3 linked regions of the Homo sapiens genome follow. The protein of the gene in region 3 purifies or fractionates together with the protein of the main gene of each other region. This does not show direct contact. Each region holds a gene or a part of one and is shown on either strand. Other genes may lie near its edges.

Region 1 (3,500 bases), on a different chromosome or scaffold from region 3:
TGAGACAAGACGCTCGTCTTACAAATAGGACACAGGTTTTATTTTCAAGGAGTGCATATAACAGTATAGAGAATCACTCCAAATTTCACAAATCCCCCTTTGAAAGGCACCATCTACTCATCTCTTATGCTTCTTAGCTGGAATTACGGGTCCCACTCCGCCACTCTTAGACACCTGATTTTCAAAATTCATTAAGCATCATTAATACTTCAAACTCCATTCACACTAGAAAAGAACTTCCAATGCTAAGGAAAATCAGTGCAGGGCTCCAAATAAATTGTGAAGTGAGGTCACTTCATGTGTCAGGTTACAGGTACACAAATGCCCATAACGCAAAGGCTGGGGCCTACATCTGTCCAAGAAGCTAAAAGTTTCCTCAACAACCAGGTGTCACTAAAACCACACTTACATCCTCTTTACTTCACTTGCAGCTCATCTGCCAAATTTTATCCCTTTCTTCTTTCCGTATGAAACATGTCATGCATTTTACACATTTATAATATATATGTACAGTTCACAGAGAAAGAATAAAATGAAACTATGTGCCCACCACGCAACTTAAGAAGCAGAACACTCCCAGGGCCTTGAAGCCCCACATGCCCCTGCCCAGCTGTACCCCTCCCTCCACTCCACCTGGTAACTTACCACCATCCTTCTATCCATTTTTAAGATCCATCCCCAAACTCATTTTCTTTTGCTCTATAGCTGCAAAGTACATGTGTACTGAAACTACAACATTCTCTGTTCTCCAAGCCTGATTGATCACCCTATGCTGACCAGGAATCAGAAAAAAGAGACAGAACACCAAGAGCAGGAGCCGTGTCACACTCATCCCTGTAACCCAGCACCTAGCCCAGGCCCACTTGTTGGTGACTGCTTGTTTCATCTACACCAAGATTCGCAAAACAAAAACATAAACACTGCAAACGAATAAACAGGTATGCCTGGAGAGAGAAACAAATGTTCCTTTCCTTCCTTACCTCTGCTTCTACCTGCTGCTGAGTTCGGTTGTGGTTCTCTTTGTACTGGTTGGCTCTCAGAACTTGCTGCTCGATGCCCAGTAGAACTGCTTCACAGCCATCACACCTACAATGGAGAAAACCAGCCCTGAGCTGCAGAATGGCCTGGGAAGTCTCTTCCAGGCTCAGAAATATTCTTCCCCAACAGCTCTCCCCAGTATCTTACAGGGACCTCCTTTAATACTCCCTCTGCCACATCTCTTGCCCGTTCACTCCTTCCCAAAGACAAGCACTTCTAAATACATAATGCAGGACATTAGGAGACAAATATGGTAGTCTGGGGCTAGTTTCTTAGAATACAGCTTTAATTTTCAACTTTGTATCTCATGGAAGATGGTTTTGTAGCACATACGATTAAAGAAGGTAGGACAGGCCGGGTGCAGTGGCTCCCACCTGTAATCCCAGCTCTTTGAGAGGCCGAGGTGGGTGGATCACCAGGTCAGGAGTTCGAGACCAGCCTGGCCAACACAGTGAAACCCCATCTCTACTAAAAATACAAAAATTAGCCAGGTGTGGTGGCGGGTGCCTGTAATCCCAGCTACTTGGGAGGCTGAGGCAGGAGAATCACTTGAACCCGGGAGGCGGAGGTTGCAGTGAGCTGAGACCACGCAATTGCACTCCAGCCTGGGTGACAGAGCGAAACTCTGCCGCAAAAAAAAAAAAAAAAAAAAGAAGGTAGAATAGATTTTATAGATGGCACTGAGTAATCCTTTTCTCAACAGAAAAAAAAGATGTTCTAGGCCAGGCGCAGTGGCTCATGCCTGTAATCCCAGCACCTTGGGAGGCCGAGGCAGGCGGATCACCTGAGGTCGGGAATTCGAGACCAGCCTGACCAACATGGAGAAACCCCGTCTCTACTACAAATACAAAATTAGCCAGGCCTGGTGGCACACGCCTGTAATCCCAGCTACTAGGGAGGCTGAGGCAGGAGAATCGCTTGAACCTGGGAGGCAGAGGTTGCGGTGAGCTGAGATCGCACTATTGCACTCCAGCCTGGGCAACAAGAGCAAAACTGTCTCAAAAAACAACAAACAAAAAAAGATTTCCTAAAAGCATCCTGTTTTGAAGATTCCGCCTTTTCTCAGAAGTTTAAGTTACTTCCTAATTGCCATACCCCTCCTCCTATTTTCCCCACTATTAATTTTTTTAAAAATGAAAAAGTTGAAAGACTACAATGAATATCCCCATACCCTCCACTTAAGATCCAACAGTGTGAGCATTTTGCCATATATGTGGTAGCCCTCAGCCTATGAATTTTGTTTCAATCTACCTCCAGTGCCTAAACATGAGTTGTAAGAGTTTCTACTAGTAAACATCCCATGGTAACCAGTTAGTCTGGCACCTCTATGTCAAACATATTGGGGGCTTAAAAACAGGAAACCAGACTATGGACATAAAAAGCTGTGTCAGCCATCTCAAAAACAGAATAGGACAGCCAACTTTGGCAGGTTCAGAAACTAGATTTTGTGTGCCAGACCATTTTTGTGTTGGGGTATTTCTAAGTTTATTTCTTATTTATTCTAAGTTTTGTAAGCTATTGAAAACTTCCACTTGTGGCAGATGTTGTATAGAGAAGGTGTTTGGGGCTATATTTGGGACAGAACTTGGGGTGAGGGGTGAGCAACACATGTCCTGGGGTGTAAAAGTAGCTGAAGTGAGGGAAACTCAGGGGACATCAGGCCCCAAGGAGTCAAAGTGGCACTGCTCCTCTCTGGATATGCTTCTCTCGGGGATGAGCAGAGATTCTCTCTCCCTCCCGAACCTGTGTACAAAGCTCACCGGGTCTGCTTCATGGCTTCCAACATGCCACGTGCCTGCCTGGGAACACACTCTCCTCACCTCCAGGTATACTCTAACCCTGGCCTTCCTTCAAAACTGAGCTAAAACTTCTCCAATCAGTCCATCTGGCTTTATAAGCCCCAAATAATTTAAATCACTCCACAGTGAATCCTCGTAGAATGTGAGACAGCTCTTACAAATATCAAATTCCATTAAAACAGAGAAAACACAAATGTCCCAATGCTTTTTATATACCAGAGTATAGTTATCAGATATTCTTTGTATGAGTCTGTATTCCAAGTTAAAATGACCCACTCCTTGTCTTCCATGTCCCTCACGGTGTTTTACAAACATTAGCCCAATATGTTACTGATTTTGAACGTAAGTTCTTTTATCCGAAGAATCTTATAAACATGTTAACTTCAACAGGGATAGAAAAAATAATAAAAACAAAGAAAGAATCTTACAAACACTAGCCTTCCTGAGTTTGGTCAAACTTTGAGCGTGAGTTTGGAAAGGGCAGGACTAGCCTCACACAGCTAGGACACATAGGCTCCACCTGCTAACCCTGGGCATTTTATAGCCCACTTTTAAATAGCTCCCAGTTGCATTTAAGGAAAGAACTATTTTACAACCAAGGCACCAGGAGGCCTGAAATGACTCCTGTTATCACACAGCTGTGATCACAAATGTAGCTCCACT
Region 2 (3,500 bases), on a different chromosome or scaffold from region 3:
CTTCCAAGGTGACAGCCAGTAGAATGTTCTCTATCACGTCAGTCCTGTGCCAGACAATGCAGATGGGGCAGCGCACTCACCGGACCCGTTCCATCTCACTAGCTGTCTTCACCACAGCAAAGGGTTCCCGTCGACTCCAGTCCCAGAAGTGGATCTCATTGGCAGTGGCAATCAGCAGGAGCTGAGCCGTAGGGTGGAAAGCCAGGGAGGCAATGGCATTGTTGCTATCTGTGAACCAGCTTTCACTGCCACCCTGTGAATGAACCAATTCCAGATATTCTCAGGTTACAAGCTACCAGCACACTGGGAAGTCAATTTCAAGAAAGGTCCATTTAAGGTAAAATGACTATGTCTAGGGACTACTTTAAATACATCCTCTGTAAAAAGATGTAGAAGATCAGCGATCTGGTAGTGCCACTAATTTATCAGATAAATACTATACAATCAGTTCAGTTCTTCAAATTAGTCACAATCTACAAGCATTAAGCATATATACACAGTTCCTATTTCTTTTTTTTTTTTTTTTTTTTGACAGGGGGTTTCATTCTGTCACCCAGGCTGGAGTGCAGTGGCACAATCTCAGCACACTGCAACCTCTGCCTCCTAGGCTCAAGCAATCCTCGCACCTCAGCCTCCCAAGTAGCTGGGACCACAGGCGCATGGCACCATGCTCAGCTAATTTTATATAATTTTGTGTATAATATTTTTGGTATAATATCCTGCCCAGGCTGGTCTCAAACTCCTGAACTCAAGCAATCCTCCTGTCTTGGTCTCCTGAAGTGCTAGGAATACAGGCGTGAGCCACCGCGCCCAGCCCACAGTTCCATGCAAAGCCTGAGAAAAACTCAAGCTCGGTGCACAACATGGTGCAAGACAACCCGCTAGCCAGTTACTAGGACAAAGAGGATCTTGCTTTGATGATCATGATCGGAGTACAGGAATATCTGTACTTAGGCAAAGATGCCCTAAGACAACAGAAATCCAACCTGAACATATCTTAGAGCCTCCTGTACTATGTCACAACGGGCTGAAGGAAGCAAAAGTAGATGTTCATCTTAGCAAGAATGGAAGACAATCTCAGGGCATGCTTAAGCTATTGCAAAAAAAAAAAAAAGGAATGGAAGACAGGGAATTAGACTTCCTATTAATTAAGTGGGCAATGTCTACAACAATATATTCAGATGTAGTCCTAAGAATCTGGCTAGGCTCTTCCAGAATTAAAAAACCAATGGTAAACAAGTCTCTGCATTTAGAATACCAAAAGAAGCCGGGCATGGTGGCTCATGCCTGTAATCCCAGCACTTTGGGAGGCCGAGGCAGGCAGACCACTTGAGGTCAGGAGTTCAAGATCAGCCTGGCCAACATAGTGAATCCCCGTCTCTACTAAAAACACAAAAATGAGCCAGGCATGATGGCACATGCCTGTAATCCCAGCTACTTGGGAGGCTGAAGCAGAAGTATCACTTGAACCTGGGAGACGGAGGTTGCAGCGAGCCAAGATCACACCACTGGGCAACAGAGCGAGACTCCGTCTCAAAAAAAAAAAATTAGAACACCAAAAGAAAAGGGTATCTTAAGGAAATACTCACGTGTAAATCCCAAATCCTAACCTCCCCATCTAGGCAGCCAGAAGCAATAAGGCCTGAGATGGTGGGATGAAAAGTGACACACCATGGAGTACGGCGGTGTCCAATCAGGGAATGAACACACTTGCCAGTCTTCACCTCCGTAATATAGATATTATGGTTCACATGGGTGGAGGCTAAGAGAGTCCTAGAAAATCAAAGAGTAGAACTGAATTCAGAAGCATGTGGAAGGGTAACCAATCTTATCAACTTTGGACGACATAGAATATTGATGCTACCTGCCAATCCCAACATGAAAGAAACTAAGCTTTGTATGTTAGGCAGTATATCTACAAACAGAAATATTCTGATCTTTAAAAGCTTTTGGCTTGTCCACACTGTCCCCAAATGACACATGCCACATTCGGAAAATATTTTTTCCCACTGGAAAAACCATCATACCACTGGTGAGCTGTATCACACAGGCAAATGATTGTTATTGAGAAACTTTCCAAGTTTTGATCCTCTCAGTTTCCTTTGCTTGTTCTCATGATTTTTCAGGTTAGCACTGCTCATCTACTTTCTTTCCCTTTCCGACACGGGGCCAAAGTGCTGTTCATACAGTACTTCAGAGAGACTTTAGGGACTGACTTGGAAGATCAAGCCAGGCCAAATATACAGAAAGCACTGTTATCACAAATCTTAAGTTATAGATAAATACTGAGTACCTGTCTGGGCTGAAGGCCAATAAGAAGGTAGAGCGTGGACTATCCGGCAGTTCTACTCTCTGGGAGACAAAAAAAAAAAAAAAGTTAAAATACATGATTTGTAGACCATGGTTCACCGTATCTCAAAAGCACATTAACCATTCTAGATTAGCATTCACAGTGTAGGCTTAAAAACTGGAGACAATGATCAAGCTACAAATTGAGAGAGATAAACCTAAATTACCTTCAGGAAAACTGTCTAGCTCTAAAGGAAAAAGATATTTCTAGCACATTAGTTCTTTCAAATTTACAAACAACTCCCTAAGTCAGATATGTCAACTCTCCCACACAAGATAAATATATCCCAACTCTCTGCTGTTAACCCATTCTAAGGTCTCATTCTACCATCACCAGCACAAATCCTATGTGAAATATAGCCATTTTCCTTACCTTGCCCTCCCATTTCATCCACCGGGTTTTATCTTCTACCAGCTCCTGCAGAAGCCGCTGAGCTCCCATGGCCCGAGCACCCCGTTCTCGCCCCCAGAGTATCCGGACAGCATTCTTTTCTGGGACAACCTTCATGGCGCTCAGTAGCCACTGTCACACCAGGCCCAGGAAATGAAGGAGCAAGTAACAGCTCCAACACACTGAAGCAGCTAAAATGAGGCCATACAGGTCCTTGTAAGTTGTCCTCATGGAAATCTTAAGGAACAAAGAATAATGTCAAAGAACGACTTCTGCAACGAGAAGCTTCTAATTGCAAATACAATTCTAGCTCAAAAGGGAAATTATACTTTTCCTATTTAATGACACTTTCTCAGAAAAGACCCTTCCTCCCAGAATTTTTCTTCCAAAAATATTTCATACTCTCATATTCTCCATAGCTCAACCTTGTAGCTAAAGAAAGGATCAGGCCAAGCACAGTGGCTCACGCCTGTAATCCCCGAACTTTGGGAAGCCAAGGAGATTGGATTGCTTGAGGTCAGGAGTTTGAGACAGCCTGGCCAACATGGTGAAACCCCGTCTCTACTAAAATACAAAAATTAGCCGGGTGTGGTGGCAGGCACCTGTAATCCCAGCTACTCATCAGACTGAAGCAGGAGAATTGCTTGAACCCAGGACGCAGAAGTTGCAGAGAGCTGAGATAGTGCCATTGCACTCCAGTGCCTGGGCGACAGAGCAAGACTCCATCTCAAAAAAAAAAAGATTATTTAGGAGTACCTTT
Region 3 (3,500 bases):
ATGTGTAAGCCAAGACAATTAGGTACTAGGGTGGTCCTAGAATTAAAGTATGAATCTATATACATGACATCCCCAGGTGGGCAGGTTTAGGGAAATTACAGACACCCGGGGGAAGGGCAAGCACGTCTCTCAGATGAACCTCACATTCAACAGCCAGATGACATTTCTACTTTTCAAGATTTTAGTGAAGGTCATGAGATGAAAGTGGTTTCACAACATGCTTCTTTCTGCACTAGCACAAATAAAGTCCTTTGAATTGACAGCAGGCTCCTCTGTTTACCCACCTAGTTGGCCAAGCAGTGACTGCCACAGGGGAGGGAAAGGGGAGGGACTGCATGAAACCACTAGGGCTCAGCACCACAGCTTCCAGAGGACAGAATCCTAACACAGCGGGATTCAGGGTAAAAGTAGAGTCACAGTCTCACTCGGCCCAGGGCCCCAGGAGTAATCAACACACGTATGAAGTACCTCACTTATACAATTAAAAATATTAAACCGAAAGAAAATATACACATGCCAATCACATGTAATAACAAATCATATCAAGTTCTAAATGGGATGCATACCTAAACTAACCGAGGGATTTGGATAGTAGATTGGACACATAAAAACCAACTCCTGGCAATCACTGACTTTTTTTCACCAAGACTGCCCAGATTAGTTCCAGATTTACAGACATAGATGTGTAATAGCATGAATAAAAGTTGGGAAATTATGCCTGGACAATGGGAAGATATTTCACATTCGAGATACACTGCAAATCCCAGCTACTTGGGAGGCTGAAGTGAGAGAAACACTTGAGCCCAGGAGTTCTAGGCTGTAGCGTGCTGTGATTGTGCCTGTTAATAGCCACTGCACTCCAGCCTGAGCAACATAAGGAGGCTAAAGAGCTCCTGTCTCAAGAAAACACACACACACACACACACACAGACACATTGCAACATTGTTTTGGGCTGGCTGTCACCTGGGAAACTCTTAAGACTTTGAACACATCACATTTTTTTTAAATGACTGAAAAATGATATGTACCAATTCTGTTAGTGCTCTCTATAGCATGTAAACTGGAAAAGTGGTGTGTCTGGTTTAGTAGCTCTGAAAGACAGTACACATGTAAAGAGGCATATATGGCAGGTCACAGTGTTGAGATATGAATGGGTATTTGTTCTTCTCATGTTTCTTCCTTTCTCCTTTCCGTCAGATAGCCAGACAACTACAGATAAAACACGCAACAAAATAACACCATATTTCATGCAGAAATATATACATATGTAACAAAGGATAAATAGTGAAAAGTCTAAATGCTTGTTAATGATTACTCCTTTGTAAGAAGGAGGCTAATGCAAGCTGAAGAAACTTTGAATTTCTTTTTTTTGTTGTTAAGACAGGGTCTTACTCTGTCACCGAGGCTGGAGTGCAGTGGTACAATTATGGCTCAGCACAGCCTTGACCTCCCTGGCTCAGGTGATCCTCCCACCTCAGCCTCCCAAGTAACTGGGGCTACAGTCCTGTACCACTATGCTCAACTAATTTTTGTATTTTTTTGTACAGATGGGGTTTCACCATGTTGCCCAGGCTGGTCTCAAACTCCTGGTCTCAAGTGATCCACCCGTCTCAACCTCCCAGAGTACAAGGATTACAGGTGTGAGCCACTGCACCCAGCCCAGACTTTAAGTGAATTTCAGTTGTACATATAATGGTTTATTTCTTAATATGAGTATATACAGTATATTCTTTTTGTAAGTTTCTTTATGTCTAAAATATTTCAGAACAATAAATGTTTCTATGACTAGTTCTGATTATAAAAATGATTTGTATCAATTTAGAAGTTGTGAAAAATATAGTTATGTCCAGAAATAAATATATAATTAATCAAGTAATCCTATTACTCATTAACTTAAAAAAAGAGTATTATGTTTGTATATTACCCCCATTATACTCTGTATGTATGCATCATAATGTACATTCATTGCATGTGAGTCTAATATATTGAGACATTCAAGATTTGCCAGACAGCATGAAATGAGTTATTAAATGATTCCAAGTTCAAACTAAACTCTGACTCTCAAGTCACCATCCCTAACCATTGGGATATACAATCTTTTTCTGAATAAGGGCTGTGTCCAGCTCAGGGAAAGTGTCTTCTAGACAAGGACAGGTCTGGCATTCAGTCCCCAGGTCTCCTGTTCAGTCTGTTGTACAGAATACTCATCTTTATGCTCTTTTATTCTGTACTGCCTCCTTTCTGGGGTTGAAACAAAGGTTTCTATTCCAGTGTCAAAATGGAAGGTAAAAAGGAATAGAAGAACACATCAAATAAAAAGTAACGAAGTGATTATTTGATCCCAAACTTCCACCATTCTCAGGTATCTCATCCACAAAGAAATGTCACCAAAGGTTCTATAACATATGAGTATGTTTGTTTCCTTTCCCAATGTTTCAAATTTAAATAATCTCTGTGGGATGTTCATGTTTAAGTCTTTTGAGGAAGGGAAAACAGAGGGGAGACCAAATATATATTTATTGAAGTATTATGTATCAGATGGTTTCTTTAGTTTTGCTCATTTCTCATAACACTCCTGTGAGGTAAATAGCAATATGCTAATTTTATTGATGAGCAAGGTAAGGTTCACTAAGTGTAACTCACTACCATACCATCATACAATAGAAAAGAGTGAGTACTCATCCCTCATCCCAACTTCATCACATTGCATAGCACAGAGATGGCACCTAACCTCCTACATAATATAGATGAGTGTGTGTGGTTCCCTTACATTCCCAAATACTCACTAAAATATAGTGATGCTATCCAGATTATGAAACAACATCCCTGTTAAAGATCAGAAGAGGTGAGATGGGAAGGAAGCAAACACTGGCACTGTGAATGACACACCAAATACCGTGCCAGCATCTTGACAAAGATCTCCCCTTGAACATGTCATAATGCTCTCTTGAGTGTAAGGATCAGGTGTATGTGTGTTTGTGGTGAAACATGCAAAACAATACTATGTTTTATTTAGGGAAGCTCTCATATGGAATAAAAGGATAAAGCAACATATGGGAATTATAATCATTGCTTTCTGGGTGCTGATTATCTATAGCAGAGACGGAAGGAGATACAATTAGGGAGGAGTAAAGGTTTTCCTAAGCTGGACTAATTTCATAGTTCTCTCTGTTTTTTATCTGAAACATTTCACAAGTAGCAGAGGTTTTAGGGGATATAGTTTTTATCATAAATACAGACATTCCCTGACTGTTGATGTTTTGACTTATAATTTTTCAATTTTATGATAGTGTGAAAGTGGTACACATTCAGTAGAAACTGTACTTCAAGTTTTAAATTTTGATATTTTCCTGGGCTAGCAAAACGCAGTATTATACTCTTGTGATGCTGGTTAGGGAGCAGCAGTGAGCCACAGCTCCCAGTCAGCCATGCAATCACGAGGATAAACTACTGAGACCCTATAGTGTACAGTGTTGCCAGGATTTTTTTGATATTGTAT

The links. The genes of interacting proteins can lie anywhere in the genome.
Region 1: the proteins of RAB40A (region 3) and COPS7B purify together in Homo sapiens (affinity purification with mass spectrometry; one large-scale study listed by BioGRID and IntAct). This does not show direct contact.
Region 2: the proteins of RAB40A (region 3) and AMBRA1 purify together in Homo sapiens (affinity purification with mass spectrometry; one large-scale study listed by BioGRID and IntAct). This does not show direct contact.

What each region holds. Positions count from the first base shown.
Region 1 is NC_000002.12:231,796,445-231,799,944, reverse strand, and holds part of COPS7B (COP9 signalosome complex subunit 7b), read right to left. Parts: intron 1,087-3,500; coding exon 981-1,086; intron 1-980. UniProt on the Homo sapiens protein: Component of the COP9 signalosome complex (CSN), a complex involved in various cellular and developmental processes.
Region 2 is NC_000011.10:46,545,524-46,549,023, forward strand, and holds part of AMBRA1 (activating molecule in BECN1-regulated autophagy protein 1), read right to left. Parts: intron 2,978-3,500; 5' UTR 2,858-2,977; coding exon 2,723-2,857; intron 2,353-2,722; coding exon 2,294-2,352; intron 1,774-2,293; coding exon 1,590-1,773; intron 254-1,589; coding exon 81-253; intron 1-80. UniProt on the Homo sapiens protein: Substrate-recognition component of a DCX (DDB1-CUL4-X-box) E3 ubiquitin-protein ligase complex involved in cell cycle control and autophagy.
Region 3 is NC_000023.11:103,512,990-103,516,489, forward strand, and holds part of RAB40A (ras-related protein Rab-40A), read right to left. Parts: intron 1-3,500.